Linked DNA regions of Homo sapiens: region 1 is linked to region 2. The links come from fine-mapping of genetic effects on gene expression. Tissue or cell type: minor salivary gland. Region 2 holds a variant in brackets; the other region holds the start of a gene. All regions are shown on one strand. Distances are between the middles of the regions.

Evidence for each region. PIP is the estimated chance that this variant, and not a neighbour inherited with it, causes the effect.
Region 1: it holds the start of MMP15, and the variant in region 2 is fine-mapped to the expression of MMP15 in minor salivary gland (GTEx, PIP 0.98).

What each region holds. Positions count from the first base shown.
Region 1 is chr16:58,022,107-58,030,106 of GRCh38, forward strand. MMP15 (matrix metallopeptidase 15) reads left to right here and starts at 3,648. Exons shown (of 10, transcript NM_002428.4): 1 at 3,648-4,406. The coding sequence starts at 4,245. RefSeq lists enhancers at 2,257-2,844, 2,845-3,430, 3,663-4,212, 4,763-5,312 and a silencer at 3,657-3,796.
Region 2 is chr16:58,107,056-58,115,312 of GRCh38, forward strand. It overlaps CFAP20 (cilia and flagella associated protein 20), which reads right to left. Exons shown (of 6, transcript NM_013242.3): 4 at 8,214-8,257; 5 at 7,755-7,865; 6 at 6,537-6,975. The coding sequence ends at 6,970. Among named protein-coding and RNA genes, the nearest start is that of CFAP20, 18 kb to the right of the region's middle. RefSeq lists an enhancer at 2,383-2,432. The variant G/A (reference allele first, on the strand shown) is at 4,626.

The DNA.
Region 1 (8,000 bases), 85 kb before region 2:
ACCTCGTGGTCAGGCCTGGCATCTGGGTGGGGACATAGGGCTTCAGGGAAAGGTGTGGGGAGAGGGGCCTGTTGCCCAGGCTCCCATGGTGGCCCCTGCAACCCCACCTTTCCTGAAAGGGGCAGCCTCCCAGCCACTGCACTGAAAGACACAGGCACATTCTGTGCCTTGTTCCTGCTCCCCACCGCATTGATCTGCTGACTCCGACTCATCATTAGTCTGGTTCTTCTGGAGAGGAGGAGGATGCCGGGCATACTTTCTGGCTTGCAAGCAACATGGCAACTCCGGCTGTGCAGCCTGCACTTAACTGACACCTGCCCTGTGCCAGGCCCTGAACTGGGCACTTGGTGAACCAGACTAGGTCTACCCTCTGGGTGCTCACAGCAGGGCTGAGCAGGCAGGGAGCACAGAGAAGAATCCCCATCCTCAACATGGTACTTCCCCAGACTTGGGTACTGGCTCCTATTGGGAGGGGGGCAGGTGTGAGGTAGGGCCTCCATCAACAAGCCCAGGAAGAGGGACTGGGCCATTCCCCTGGGGGAGGATGTGGCTGGGGAGTCTGTCTGTGCTGAGGATGGAATTTGAGTGCAGCAACTTTGAGAAATGGGCCAAGATCAATAACTGGCTCCTCAATGGAGAATGGAAGGTGGCAATGGAGGAAGGAAGCAGGAGTCTCGCTGAGGGGGAGGGGTGGGCAGGCTGGGCCTGAGGAGGAGGCTGGCGGCAGGAGCTTGGCGGGCACCCAGACACTGAGTGTGCCTCTGGAGCAGAGTAAGCCCGTTGAGCGAGCGCTCCCGCTGACAGTGCAGAAGCAGCCGGGGCTCTTCCATAACAGGAGATTCTCCATAAGAGGAGAAACATGGGAGACAATTCTGGAGACAGAGGGAAGACCAGAGAAGGCTGCGGTCCCCCCCAGGGAGGCTGGCCCAAAGAAATGCTCTTGATGAGGATTTTATCGCACCAGGGAGAGTACAAAATCAACACATCTGGCCTCGGTGTCCTCAGATGTTCCCCGCAGGGCAGGGAAATCATCTCACGCCTGTTTGGCTGATTTCCACCTGGCACTCTCCAGCGCCTCTCCAGACCACCCCAGCTTTGTTTCCAAGGGAGAGGGAAATTACCTTGGCTTGTTTGTTTATTCCTTGTCTTGGCACGAAGAGTCCCAAGGCCTGCTTCACCTTTGATGGTGGGTCGGGTGGGTGCATCGCCCGAGGGGCCCCTGGAGGGGAGAGCTGGGGGAGGGGGTGTCCTGGGCCTAGTTCCATCCCACAGCTACTTTCCTTCACTGAACAGGAGACCTCCCCTACGACCTCAGAACTCTCCTTTTGCAAATGAGGAAACAAACCCAAAGAGGGGAATAACTTGCTCGGATTGCCCAGTAAATTACAGCTGAGGCAAAAACCCAGGGACCTGGCTTCTGATCCAGAGCTTTTTACAATCCCTCACACCACATCGGGACCTCTAAATGAAACTGCTCTGAAACACCATGTCTGGGCTTTCATTCAAAAGACCAAGAAAAAAAAGGTGTGTGGTGGTGGGCGGGGGTGTCAGGGCATAGATGAAACGGTATTGGCAAAATATGGATAAGGTTTAAAGCTACTTGATGGAAGGGCTGCAGTTCACACATCTCAGTCCCACTGACTAGTCCTTTCGGGCTTTGGGTGCTGTCCAGACCCAGTAGAAACCCAGCTATCTTGGGTTGGATGTAGATGCAAATCCACCTTGGACTCCCAAAGTACCTATAGGAGCCAGAACCAATAATTGGGAGCTTCAAGATCTGGTCACAGGGGATGTCATTTCCTTAAGGCAGGATTGGACCCCAAGAGAGGAACCTCCAACAGAGAGAAAATCACCAGACTTGACCGACCCAGGCCTCAAAGAACGTTGCTCCACTCATTCCTGGGCTCCTCTCACTAACAGCTAGCCCCTTAAACCCCAACTTTTTTTTTCTTTTTTTCTGAGACAGTGTCTCGCTCTGACAGCCGGGTTGAAGGGCAGCGGCATGATCATAGCTCACTGCATCCTCAACCTCCTGGGTTCAAGTGATCCTCCCAACTCAGCCTCCCAAGTAGCTGGGCCTACAGACGTACACCACCACACCTGGCTAATTTTTGTATTCTTTGTACAGATGGGGTCTTGTCATGTTGCCCAGGCTGGTCTTGAACTCCTGGGCTAAAGCAATCCTCCCACTTCGGTCTCCCAAAGTGCTGGGATTACAGGCTTGAGCCACTTTACCTAGCCCCAAACTTTTTAAAATTGGCTAATCGGGACTAAATATCATGAAAGAGTGCGACGTGGTCGGTTAAACAAGGACAACCCCGTTGTCCGTGTCTGAAGACCACTGCACATTTCCCAAAAGCAAATTTCGAAGTGGAGAATTTAGAAACCAACTTCCCAGATGAAGGATCCCACAGAGAAGTGAGTCCGTGGAAATGATAGAATCGCCCGGTTCCTTTCTCTAAACTCCGACTTCCTTTCCCCAAGGACATCCCAGGAGGGTTCAAACGCGCCCTCTCTAAGGCACTCTGCCAGGTCTCCTGATTTCCAGTTTCCGGGAGGTGAGGCCGGCTAGGGTGCCCCGAGGGCCTGCTCTAGAGAAAACCGCCCTCAGGTGAGGACGGCTTCCATTTCCGGGTCTGAAGATAAGGAACAGCTTATCTTCGGTCTCCGCCCTCCTGCCTGCAACCCTCACCCACTGACCACGCCGGCCAGTCCGCCGCGCCAGGGCTGCCCTTGGCCTGGTCCCCGGGTCTCGGTGGACCTTCGACCCGGGCCTCCCAGCTCTGGCCTCCTGCATCCACCCCGCCCCGACCTCAAGCTGCTTCCGGAATAGAATGAAATCCAGCTCGTTAAGCTTCGCGGGGAGGTGTGTCCACCCGCCCCGCGCCGACTCCGGCCGCACTGTCGCACTTCACTCGCACCAGCCAGTGGCCAAAGTGCTTGGGCACCTATTGCGCCAGGCCAGGAGCCGGAAGTCTTACCTCGCCCTCACCCCAACTCTTTGCCCCACGTTCCCGATAAGAACATGGAGGCTCGGAGAGATTAATTTGCCCACGTGCAAGCGGCAGCTAAGGGGCGGACGCGGAACTTGAACCGTGTCCCTCCTAAACCTGCCCCTTGTCCGCCGCAACGCGCCCTCGACGCGCACAAAACCCTCACTTTGCTACTGAGGAAAGTTATTCAATGGCCAGAGACACCCTGCGGCTTTTGAAAAGAGGTTTCAGGCTGACAAATATCCATATATACATATATATTTATATTTAAGCCTAAAACGACTCTTTGATCCCTCCCCTAAGACCTCCTTCCCGTCCGCCTAGGCCTCGGTATCCCCCACCAGGTATGAGAAGGAGGAGTCTTCATTCTTCCCAGGCGGGGAGACCACGCCTTCCCTGCCTCCTCCCTCCGCGGGGGGTCGCGTTGGAGGTCACCCCCGCCCCCTAGGCGCTGGGTTGGGAGTGACGCGGGGTGGGCTGGAGAGGTTTCCTGCCGTCTGGGAAGCGTAAACGGACCGCCCACCTGTCGGGCCTCGGCCGCCCGCACCTGCTTGTGAGAAGCCTGCGGCTGGGGCACCGCCCCCGGTCCCCGCCCGGGTCCGCGCATTGGGAGCACACTGGCCCTTTAAGAGCGCGGCGGCCGCGGCGCGCGGGGAGGAGGGCTGGGAGCGCCCGGAGCCGCGCTGAACTCGCCGGGGACGTCGGGCGCCCGCTCCTTGGCTGGCTCGCTTGCTCTCTCGCTCGCTCTCTCGGGTCGGCTCCCTGCGCCTCCTCCCGGGACTGCTTGGGGACCCGGGCCCGGTCGGGCGCGGCGGCGAGCAGAATCCCCGTGCAGGAGGCGCGCGCTCCGGGCAGCGCCCGGCCCCGGGCATGGACAGAGGGAGCTGGGCGCGCAGGGAGCGCCGCGGGACCGGGCGGCCGGAGCGCTGAGCCAGACAAAGGCTCCGGAGTTGCGCTTGCTCTCGGGAGCCGGGCCCCAGGCGCTGGGCGCCGAGGCTGCGGAACCTCGCCGGGGGCAGCTCCGGTCGGCCCCCTTTCCCGCCGGCTGGTTCCGAGCTCCCGGACCTGCCCTGCCCGCTTCTCCTCGGGCTTGGGAATTTGCCGAGGCGACCTAGGCGGCTCCGGCGGGGACCGGGAGCCCGAGGTCCGCGGCGCGCCTGCCGGGCCAGGAGCCAGGGAGCGTCGCAAGTTTCCAAGGCGCGTGCGAGGATCCGGCGTGCAGTGTTCCGAGCTGGGCTGGGCGCCGAGAGCATGGGCAGCGACCCGAGCGCGCCCGGACGGCCGGGCTGGACGGGCAGCCTCCTCGGCGACCGGGAGGAGGCGGCGCGGCCGCGACTGCTGCCGCTGCTCCTGGTGCTTCTGGGCTGCCTGGGCCTTGGCGTAGCGGCCGAAGACGCGGAGGTCCATGCCGAGGTAAGACCCCCGCCCTGCCCTTTGGCTGCGGGCTGGGGGCTTGGAGGGAGAGGCGCCACGTCCGCAGGCTGGGACTTGGAGGTGGAGGGAGCGGAGACGCGCCCCCTGTTCTGGGCCGTGGCGGGGAAGCAAGCGGACTTGGCAGTCTGCCCCTCCCCAGCTCGCCCTCTGCAGCGCACCTCTTCGCAAACCCTTGAGGGCGCAGGGCCTCGCTCTCCTCCCCGCTACTCCTACAGCCCTGTTCTGGGCACTGAGCCCCCACCCCGACCCCCTTACATTCAGCCTGTGTCCCGGGAGCCGCTTCCGCCGCCCCCAGCCCTTGCCTCCCCTCCTTCCTTCCCTCCAGGGCAGCCGATTCCTCGAGAGCCCGGCTGGCGCGCAGTGGCGCTCTTTGCGAGTGGGGAGGGGGCTGCTCTCGGGGACAGCCACAGGCGGAGCAAGAGCTGGGCGGCTGGGCAACTGCGCTCCTGCCCAGGTGGCCTCCCGTCTGGGTGATACCGAGCCGCGCACGGCGGGCCAGGATGGAGGCGGGGGGATGGGTGCAAACGGCTGAGGCAGCGGACTCGGGTTGCGGGGGCGCTTTGGCGACTTTCTGCGCTTTTGCGAGGAAGCCTAGGCACGCCCGGGCGGGGTCCTAAGGACGGACCCTGCCTCCCACAGCGCTTCCTCCCAACAGCGCCCCTACGTCGAAGCCCTGGATTCGAGAGGGTGGACCCCGCGCCTCTCTTCGCTAGGAGCCCGCTTGGCGTCCCTCCCGGGGCCCCGCTCTGGATGGGTCCCGCGGGTGACCAGGCGCGACATCCCGGCGTAGAGCCGAGTCCAGCCAGCGCCCCAGCTCCATGGTGTCTCCCGAGCGAGGACACCGAAGGCGCCAGCTTTCTTGCCCCAGAGCAAGAGCAGGGTCCACTCTTCCCCGACTTCTAAGACCTGCGCCCTGCCCCAGATAGGCGGGGAGAGGACTTGGGCGGGGAGTAGGGAGAAAGAACCACCCCGGAGCCGCTTCTGAACGGTGCTCAGGCCTTGGTGCCCTTGGGCTGCCCGGGCTGCGGGCCTGAGCGCCGTTTCTATTTGCAGCTCAGCTGGTGCTCCCTCCCTGGCCCACGGCGGCTTTCCCACCTCTCCGGGCTGCCTGGGAGATTTTTCCGATGGAAGCTTGCCCTTCCCCGCCCTACTTTAATAAAAGCATAGAGGAAGGGCAGGGAATTCCTCCTGGGCTCGAGTTACACCTCCCAGCCATTTCCCCACCTGCTCTGCCCTCCCTCCCTGGCCTGGCCAGGGAGAGCTGAAGGAGGAGCCAGGCCCTGGTGGGAGGCAGGATAGGAGCCCCGCCCCGACCCAGTCTGGCCACCCTCCCCCACCCCATTCACACAGGCAGGAGGAGCTTTAGGGGGCTCCTGTTGGTGAGGATTACCCCTCAGCCTGTGACCCAAGTACTGGGCGGAGAGTGCCATTTGGGCCCACCTGCCACTCTGGGCTGGAGTGCCAAAGAATTTCAAGTCACAGTCCCACCATTGAGTTTCTAATCTACTTAGGGATGGCGTCAATACATAGGAAGCAGTGATGGAATTCAATGGCCGTGCATTGCTAATGGCATCCTAGCTGGCCAGGAGCTCAGGGGTGCAGGGACCTGTAGTTGGAGGGGCTTCACTCTCTCTCTCTTCTGCTTTTCCAGTTCCATCTCACCCCTACCCCAACTCCCCAGCTCAGGGAGTGCCCACAGCTCGATGCCGCCAGGGAAGAAGCCATGGTTGCGTTATCACAAACCGTGCTCCTGATCTGGAGGTTGTGACTGTCCTGGAGCCCTACTCCTGGGGAAACACTTGGGTTGGACCTGGGCAGTGACTGGAAGAGACCCCGGAAGGTTTAAGGAGCCTTGAATGTTGGCAGCCATGCAGATAGAGGGCTAGAGACAGGTGGAGTGTCCCAGCTCCTACAGTTGGCTTTGGGTACAGGCTGCTTCTAGGGTCCCATCAGGTCTGGCCACATGTGGGCCCAAAGAGTCAAATGGCCTCAGCAGCCAGCCCATCTGCCGGGGGCTGTGGCCTCAGACTCCTGGGCCTGGCCTACACCCTGTGTTGAGCCTCCCTTCCTTGGAGAAGGCTGGCTCTCTCATCCTCACCCCAGCATCCACACAGCCTCAGGCCTCCAGTAGGGTCACAGCTGGGACCTTCTCGGAGCAGCTTGGCAGCTGAGCCAAGGCCAGCCTCTCTCCACTTCCTCTCTCCCCTCCCAGGGTGGAAGCCACAGGACTTTCACGAGGCTGAGACATCAAGGAGCCTGGCATGTGCTAGGAACTGACAAACACCTGCAACCTGCCAGGCCCTAGCCCACCACTGAGCTGCCACGTCCTATCCCACATTCTCCCTTGGATGTCCAATCCCAGTCTGTAGCCATTCCGGGCCAGATCCCCACCTGGCTGAGGTGCTCACTGTTGTTCCTGCCCTGCAGGGCTGAGAGTCTCCAGGCTCACCGGGGGAGCTCTTATCTCACCTGCCTCCCCCTACCCCCTCCTCCCAGGCACAATTCAGGTCCTCAGCCTGCTCTGTGGAGGTGACTCAGGCTGCCAGAGTTCACAGGGGTGGTGCCACCACCACCAAAACCGATCCACCCGCCTTTCCTCAACAGGCCCACGAGTATCTTCCTAGCCCCTACCCAGCCACTGAGTAGATGAGGCAGCGGGGGTGGGGGCGTTGGGAGGGGGTCAGCGTGAATTACCATTTTGACCTTCAGGTGAGCCACAGTCTTGGGCTTCCTTAGCTTCAGTCTCTACTAGCACTTCCATGCTGGCTCCGGGGGGGCCCCACTGGTCCCCTCTTTCTTTTAAACAGAGCAAAACTACAGATGCCATCTGTGCCCACCAGCTAAGAAAAGGGAGTTAATAGCGGGGCCTTGTCATTGGGAATCTGCAGAAGCTGAATCTTCTCCCCCTCCCCTCTTGTCTCTGCTTTTTACTCTGTTTTCTTGCTAGTAGTAAATCACTCCTCTCCATGCTCTGTCAAGACCCAGAGAGAACTGGTCTGATTGGCACAGCCAGGGACCTAGATCTCATTGGGCCATGCCCTTCACACCCAGCCCTTGCCATGTTTCCGAGTTGGGGCTGCCCTTGGGTCCAGCCAGTCATCTGTCTCCTTGCAGAGAACAGCCCAGTGTAAGCTCCTTGTCTGAGCAGTGTATTGGCCTGACCTTCCCATTGTGACCTCTGAACATAAATACCTCCTTTGCCCCACCCCAAGGGATGTTGATACTTAAAAGATATCCATGAATGTGGAGAGGAGCAACATGGAAATACACGCTATCCCCACCCCCAAAAGAAGACTTTCCCCAAAAGCCCAGTGCCCACTGCTATCTCTTATGCCCATTCAGGATGGCTACACTGCAGGCGTGGAAAAGCCCCTCCCTGCCGAGCGGTTTGTTCTGCTGTCCCTCTGTGGCCCTTTTGTTGTTTGGTCCAGATGATCCCTTCCATCATCACCTCTGCCCTGCTGGGAGTTTGACCTCTGCCTCAGGCTAGCTGTGGTGGTCACTATGAGAACCACTACTTTCCAGATCAAATCAGAATGGGTATCCTCCATATCATCCCAAGGCTTAGGTGGC
Region 2 (8,257 bases):
CACTGCACTCCAGCTTGGGTGACAGAGCAAGACTCTGTCTCAATAATAATAATAATAATAATAATAATTAAATAAAACCATCAGATCTCATGAGACTTATTCACTATCACAAGAACAGCATGGCAAAGACCCGCCACCAGGTCCCTCTCACAACACAGGGGAGTTATGGAAGCTACAATTTGAGACTTGGGTGGAGACACAGCCAAACCATATCATCATACATCCTAAAACATGCACTTCCACCGAGCTTTAGGTGTAGGTGGCATGAACCTATTTTGCATGCTCACTAATAATTTTTTTTCTCCTTCCTTAAGGGCTGAGATTTGCTTTCATTGTAGCACACTACCAGCAGTCAGGTGGAGGGAATGAGAACTACAGCTCTCCCTGCCTTTTACTGCTGGGGGCTTAGGTCAGTTTCTAATACCAAGAAAAGAGGTCTCAGGCTTGTAAAGAGGCTTTAGGTTCAAGTAAACATGAGGACAGTCTTGGAGGATGGGAAGGAGCTTTGGAGAGTGACTTGGAACCCAAAGGCTAGTGTATTTATGGCCCGATTTTACTGTATTTATTGATTTTACTGTATTCCCTCCAAAATACCAGGATTTACAATTTAAGACTTTATGGAAACAGGGGCTGGGGGATACCCAAGTGATGAGAGAACCCATGGAGGCTTATATTGATATTTATTGCTGTCATTCAATAGAAGAGTAGAGGAGCTTGGTGACCTTTTATACCCCTTTAACAAGGGGTTCTGTTCAATCCCTTTCCATATCCACCCCTGGCACACTGTTTTGCTTTGCTTCGCTTCAGACACCATGGATACCAAGAGGCATGATTTTTCCAAGGCTCATGCTCTATCCAGATGTTCAATGTCTTGTGGATTTGCAATTTGGAGTGCCTCTATCACAGCCCAGAGGCACTCGTGATTTGCATTACAGGACCTCACACTTTCAGGTTATGGAAAATGTATGGAGATGTCAATGACATATTAGAATTCTGTATAAAAGGAGGAACTTAAGGGTTCTTTTGTTTGTTTGTTTTTGGTAGGAGGAGGTTGCAATCTGCAGATGTGCCTGGGTGGTGGGTGGGGGCGGGGAGGGCGGTGTTTTACGTTTCTTTTCTCTCCCAGCAGTGTCTGACCTCTCTACGCTCAGATGTATCATATCCACTCACTCAAATGTGGAGCCACTCTCAGATGACAGAATCACCAAAAAACACCAGGAGAAGGTATTAAGATGCAGATTTCTGGGTTGGCTTTAGACAGAGAGAGAGAATAAAAATGTTATCTCTTGGGGTGGGGACAATTGTCATTTTAATAAGCTGGGTCCCAGAAATATGCATTTTAAATAGGCCAGGGCCAAGGACTCTGAATTTGCTGGATTTTTATTTATTTTTTTAGAGTGTTGCTCTGTTACCCAGGCTGGAGTGCAGTGGTGCAATCATAGCTCACTGCAGCCTCCACCTCCCCGACTCAAGTGATCCTCCCACCTCAGACTCCCCAGTAGCTGAGACTACAGATGCATGCTACCATGCCTGGCTAAGTTTTTTATTTTCTGTAGAGATGGGGTCTCGGTGTGTTGCCTGGGCTGGTCTTAAATTCCTGGTCCCAGGTGATCATCCCGCCTTGGCTTCCCAAAGTGCTGGGATTACAGGCATGAACCACTGTGCCTGGCCCAGCAACATAATTTAAGAATATGAATTAAAATTCAGTAGATTCATCTTCCTGTGGGAAAGGTACATTGTGCACCCCCCGCCCTCCAACCAATTAGGTCTATCCTTATTTATTTAGAGACAGTCTTGCTCTGTTGCCCAGGCTGGAGTGCAGTGGCACAATCTTGGCTTACTGCAACCTACGCCTCCCGGGTTCAAGCGATTTTCCTGACTCAGCCTCCTGAGTAGCTGGGATTACAGGTGCCCACCATGCCCAGCTAATTTTTACGTTTTTAGTAGAGACAGGGTTTCACCATGTTGGCCAGGCTGGTTTCAAACTTCTGACTTCAGTTGTTCTTTTCGCCTCGGCCTCCCAAAGTGCTGGGATTGCAGGCATGAGCCACTGTGCCCGGCCTATTCAAGTCTATTCTAGATGCCTTATGAGCAGACACTTGTGCTCAGCATCAGGAGCCTGACCTTCTAGCAGGAAGCCCTAGGCTTTATTCCCAGCTCTGGCCCATGTGAGCCATGCAGCCCCTGTGAGCTATTTAACTTCTGTGCTTGTCCATAGATGGGGGCAGCGCCACATATAACCTTCCAGACAGGATCCCAAGGGCGCCACATGCAACGGCTATGAAAGCATGCTACCTTCTGAAAAGCACTGCCATGTACTGCGTGGGTCTCCATTGTCGTTAGAAGTCATCTGCAGTGCCAGGCCTTCCCAGGCTCCTGAGAGAACACACATGACAGCGATCAGGAAACTGAAAAAGCTGTTCATGCTAGGCGGCTGGGTGCAGGAAGAAAGGGCAACTACATTCTGTTAATACATTCGGGTGCTGTCATTTCAGAAATGGGAAGTGGGACTTATATGTTACTTTATATTCTTTCTTTTTTTTTTTTGAGATGGAGTTTCACTCTTGTTGCCCAGGCTGGAGTACAGTGGTGCGATCTCAGCTCACTGCAACCTCCGCCTCCCAAGTTCCAGCAATTCTCCTGCCTCTGCCTTCTGAGTAGCTGGGATTAGCAGTGCACGCCACCACGCCCGGCTAATTTTTTTGTATTTTAGTAGAGATGGGCTTTCATCCTGTTGGCCAGGCTGGTCTCAAACTCCTGATCTCAAGTGATCCACCTGCCTCGAACTCCCAAAGTGCTGGGATTACAGGCGTGCCCAGCCCTTCATATTCTTTGAACCATGAGCTCATGAATGTACCATGAGCATGTATTACTTTTATGATTCCCTGGTTAAACACAAATGAGATTTTTACTGTCAGCCTCAGACCCTTGTGTTCAACTAATATGTGACCACATAGTGACTGGGCAGGCCAGCCCTCACTGCTGGGCAGAGCTGACTCCAGTGCTTGATGCAAGGGGATGCCAACACAAAAGAGGACAGGGATGGCATATGGGTCTCCTCAGGAGCATGGGGTCCTCGTTCCACCCCGTTGTTTCTAGAGGGGCTAGCCCATCCCTCTCTGGGCTTCAGTGTCCTGATCAGTAAAATGAGGGGATGAGGATGCAGACAAGAGCTGCAAGATCTTTTTCAGTGAATTTCCTGACACTTAGGGCTTCTGGGTGAAGCCACTGAGGGGCTAGGGACATCGGTTTGGGGTTGTTCTCTGGGATTCTTGCAACCTTCAGAAATGCCCCAGGAGCTGACTGGTGTGGCGCCGGCCAGTCTTCTAGCCTGGCTATAGAGGAAGCAATCAACGGGCCAGGGGCAATTAAGGGCCAGAGTAAATCTACTCTCCCCCAGAATCAGCCCTGTTGGGAACGGCTGTGTGCTATTCCAAGTTCATGCCAATTAACTAACACTCTCTCATTTAGAGGGCAATTCCTTCTAAAACACACTGTGACTTCCAAGGAGCTGGATAATGCAATTCTGCCTGCTCCAATTACCGTGATCCGAGATCACCCAGGCCCAAACTCCATGAGGGCGCCTCAGCCCAGCAGCCTGTCATTCCCTCTTCCCTCAGCCTCACTGGAGGTTGTCGTCTTCCTGGGGAGCTGGAAAGCTGCAGGCAAGGGGCTGTGCAGTCATGACACCACTATTCACCCTGGCCTGGGGCCAGCTCAGATAATACCTCTCATCACCCCCGGGGCCCCTCGCTTCCTTCTTCCTCTGGGATGGGTATGTGAGGCATCTGGGAAGTCACCACCTACCACCCCAAAGGGTGGTGAGGTAATCCCCAGACACGGTCTAACAAGTGCCTGGGGTGAAAGAGGCTCTGTGTGGAGGAGAGTGCCTCCCTGTGTTGCTCTGAACCCCCAGGAGCACTTCACTGATATCCTGGCACCCAGAAGAGATGAGAAGTTAACGCGGTTTTCTTGTCATCACAAAAGCATCTTTCATGCCATAATCGAGTCTGGATTGGAGGGAAGATTTCACTAGACAGTGGCCAGAGGCTAGACACTCTGTTGGTTATTGCCCACCCCTCCACCCACTCAGCCATTTGAGGATTCCTATTGTAAGCAAGAAAGTGAAGGAGACAGGCACACTGCCTAAGAGGGGGATGCTGACATGCTAAGCACAGGGAAGCAGGACGACGTTCAGTTTTGACCAGAGTTAGCCCTGCAAGAGCAGGCTCTGTCACCTGGGCTGAGGGGGTGTGTTCTGTGATGCTGATGACTAGGGACTCAAAGGAGAGGGGCAGCATCCTCCAGAAGGTGGCTCCAGGCTGGTCACCAGCAGAAGGAAAAAGGGGAAAGTTGTCTTAACTGCGCCCACCTGAGTTTCAGGCACTTGACAACTGTCTCATCAGGTAGCTGTGGAGCACCCTCCCCTCCACTTCTCCACCTCCTGTAGCCCCTGCCTCCTCAGAGACTTGGCCATGCTTCCCCACAGCATACTCTGGAGGATACGGATGTGGGGAAAGCGTGCTTCCTGCCATTTAACTTCTCAGAAGGCAGCAATGGTAATGACAAATCCCAGAACTTAATGTTTTTACCTCTAACCAAAGTCAAAATGGCAGGTGCCCACA[G/A]TTCCAGTCTGTGCAATGACAGCAAACCCCGGGGAGTGACTGGGGAGGGCACAGAATCTGGAATAGCCTTTTGCTCTTGCATTAACTTTGAAATTTTTATTACAAAAATGTCTTTCCAAAAAAAATTTTTTTTTTGAGATAGAGTCTTGCTGTTACCCAGGCTGGAGTACAGTGGCACTATCTCAGCTCACTGCAACCTCTGCCTCCCAGGTTCAAGCAATTCTCCTGCCTCAGCCTCCCAAGCAGCTGGGATTACAGAAGCGCGCCACCACACCCAGCTAATTTTTTATATTTGGTAGAGATGGGGTTTCACCATGTTGGCCAGGCTGGTCTCAAACTCCTGACCTCAAGTGATCTGCCTGCCTTGGCCTCCCAAAGTGTTGGGATTACAGGCGTGAGCCACCACGCCTGGCCAAAAACATTGTTTTTTTTAATAGTAGAAGAGAGTATACAAGTGATTTAAAAAAACACAACAAAATCATTCTGCCCAGGTAATCACTGTATTAGTTGTGTGTCCTTCAAGATCATATAGGACACCACCTAATAGGGGGATGCTGATAAGTGCTTTTCTCTGCCCTCAAATTGCTTTCCCCTCAGAAATGTTGCATGTGGTAGAGTTGTATCATATACAGTGCTTAACTTTTGCAAATTCATCTGTGCCTAACCAAAAAAAAAAGAAAAGAGAAAAAGAAAAAAGCAGGCAATAGTGCCAGTGTCATTCCACTCAACAGGCATCTGCCCAGAATAAGCACAGTGGGAAAAGTGGTGTAAGGTTCCAGTTCCCTCATGCGATTCCAGCGTTTAAAGAAACATTTTTCTGGCCGGGCGCAGTGGCTCACGCCTGTAATCCCAGCACTTTGGGAGGCCGAGGCGGGCGGATCATGAGGTCAGGAGATCAAGACCATCCTGGTTAACACCGTGAAACTCCGTCTCTACTAAAAATAGAAAAAAATTAGCTGGGCGTGGTGGCGGGCGCCTGTAATCCCAGCTACTCAGGAGGCTGAGGCAGGAGAATGGTGTGAACCCAGAAGGAGGAGCTTGCAGTGAGCTGCGATGTTGCCACTGCACTCCAGCCTGGGCGACAGAGTGAGACTCCGTTTCAAAAAAAGAAACATTTTTCTTTAAGTCCCTACATTCAAGGCCAGTAGTACTTCAGCGGGAACTCAAATAGAGAAATGGTGATCTGCTCCAATGCTTTAGGTGCAATTTAGACTATGTCATTCTGTCTTAAGCTCAACCTAGGACCCAACCCCTAGCAAGATGATTCCACTGGTCACATACTATTTTTTTTTTCCCATTTAGTCTTCAAAGTTGTTCTGAACCAGTTTATACAGTTGACCCTTGAACAACTCAGAGGTTAGAGGCACCGACCCCCTTATGCAAAAATCTATGTATAACTTTTGACTCTCCCAAAGCTTAACTACTATAGCCTTCTGTTGACTAGAACCCTTACTGATAATATAAACAGCCATTCAACACATATTTTGTATGAATTACATACTGTATTTTGTATTCTCACAATAGGGTAGGCTACAGAAAACGTTATTAAGAAAATCATAAAGAAGAGAAAATATATTTACTATTCATTAAGTGGATCATCATAAAGGTCTTCATCATTGTTGTCTTCACATTGATGAGGAGGGGAAGAGGAGGAGGTGGAGGGAGAGGAGGAGGGACTGGTTTGTTGTCTCAGGGGTGGCAGAGGTGGAAGAAAATCCTCATATAAATGGACCCGCACAGTTCAAACCTGTGTTGTTCAAGGGTCAGCTGCATAATATGTCTTGTTCTTTAGATACTTAATACAAGACATTTCACAGCATGAAATGTATAAGATGTTCAATGGAAATAGTTCTCTTTTCATATCACAAAGGAAACAAACATCACCATGAAAAAAGACAAACTAGGAACAAATTTACAAACCAGGAATATATCACTTTATTCATTTCCAGATTATGAGTATGACACAGCATATACATATATTTAGATAATATATAAAACATAGAATAAACCGCAGGAAGAAATATTGGTCTGGAATTCCTTATGGGCCATCTTTAATTCTGTAAGTTCATGGTAAAGGTATCTCCCCCCACACTGGGGCAGGCGGCGGAATAAGCTCCAGCGTTCATGCGCCACTCACAGGACTGCTTACCCCCACTGCACTTACAATGCAGTCACAGAGTTACGGCATGTTCACCGGTGTCCATGACAAGCAACACCAAGTATAAATAACAGAACTACAGCAGAGCAAACTAAGATAAATATGTTTTTGCATCGTCCTCCACATAGTTTCCTTTTAAAAAGAAGAGTCACATCCAGGGGTCTATCCCTCGAGTCACAATTCCAGTTATTGCTGAAGGGAAAAAACAGAGAAGTGGCATCAGTTTAAGTTACTAGAAAATAGATGGTCAGTGTCACAGGCCCCCTGCCTCTGGTGACACTTGAGTGGACAGTGACTGTGGAGAATGGACACACATCTGCAGCACACAGGCAGGGAAGCACCCACCCTTGTGTTAGCAGGGACCTATCAGCTGATAATACTTTTGGGCTGATTAAGAGTTAAGATGGGGCTGGGCACGGTGGCTCACGCCTGTAATCCCAGCAGTTTGGGAGGCCGAGGCAGGCGGATCACTTGAGGTCAGGAGTTTGAGACCAGCCTGGCCAGCATGGTGAAACCCCGTCTCTATAAAAATTAAAAATTAGTTGGGCATGGTGGCAGGCGCCTGTAATCCCAGCTACTCAGGAGCCTGAGGCACAAGAATCCCTTGAACCTGGAAGGCAGAGGTTGCAGTGAGCTGAGATCGTGCCACTGCACTCTAGCCTGGGCAACAGGGCAAGACTCCATCTCAAAAAAAAAAAAAAGTTAAGATATTTTCTGAAGTTCTGTGAGCCAGTAGTAGGAAGTGCCTCATCCCCTCTCACCGTGGAGAGGGGAAACAGCAGTAACAGAGTATTTCACAGGAGCATTCCTGATTCAGTGCTGGAAGGAGACCTAAGATCTTGCGATATAAAGGCACCCCAAAGTGTCAACACAGAGAGGCTCTGCAGCTGAATTCTTAGACCAGAGCACCTTCCAGGAACACAGCTCCCCCCACTCACTGGTGGACCTTCCTCTGGGGAAGACTGGCTTACCTTTGCCTTGTTCTGAACTGGGAGATACAGTTTGAACTCTGCCGGCAGCTCATCTTCTGAGTAGAGTCTGTCTGAGAAGTAAACCCGTCGGATGCGACAATTTGCATGGATCTGTCAAGGCAATGCTTCTTTTGAGAGGCGAAATGTGACTGTTCTCCCCCTTTTCCTGAATCTTCTAGAGGCCCTCTTCCAGGACTGGAAACGCGTCATCTCCGGCATCTCCTTGGCTTGTCTTAGGGATGGATTCTGGCAAGAGGGAGGTCTTACTTGCTGTATTCACCTCTATACCTGACCCGACTTCTGAATATTTCCTGGACCTTTGTGAGGCCAAAGCTCCCTGGACAGTGTGGCAACTGAAGCCAGAAACCCACACTGTTCTGCTATGTGGGCCACAAGCCAATATTAGACGCAGTGTGCCCTATCCCCAACCCAGGGCTCTATCTGGGAAAGGAGCAGTACCTGCACTCTGAGGGTCTCGATGTAATTGGTGCCGTATGCTCGCC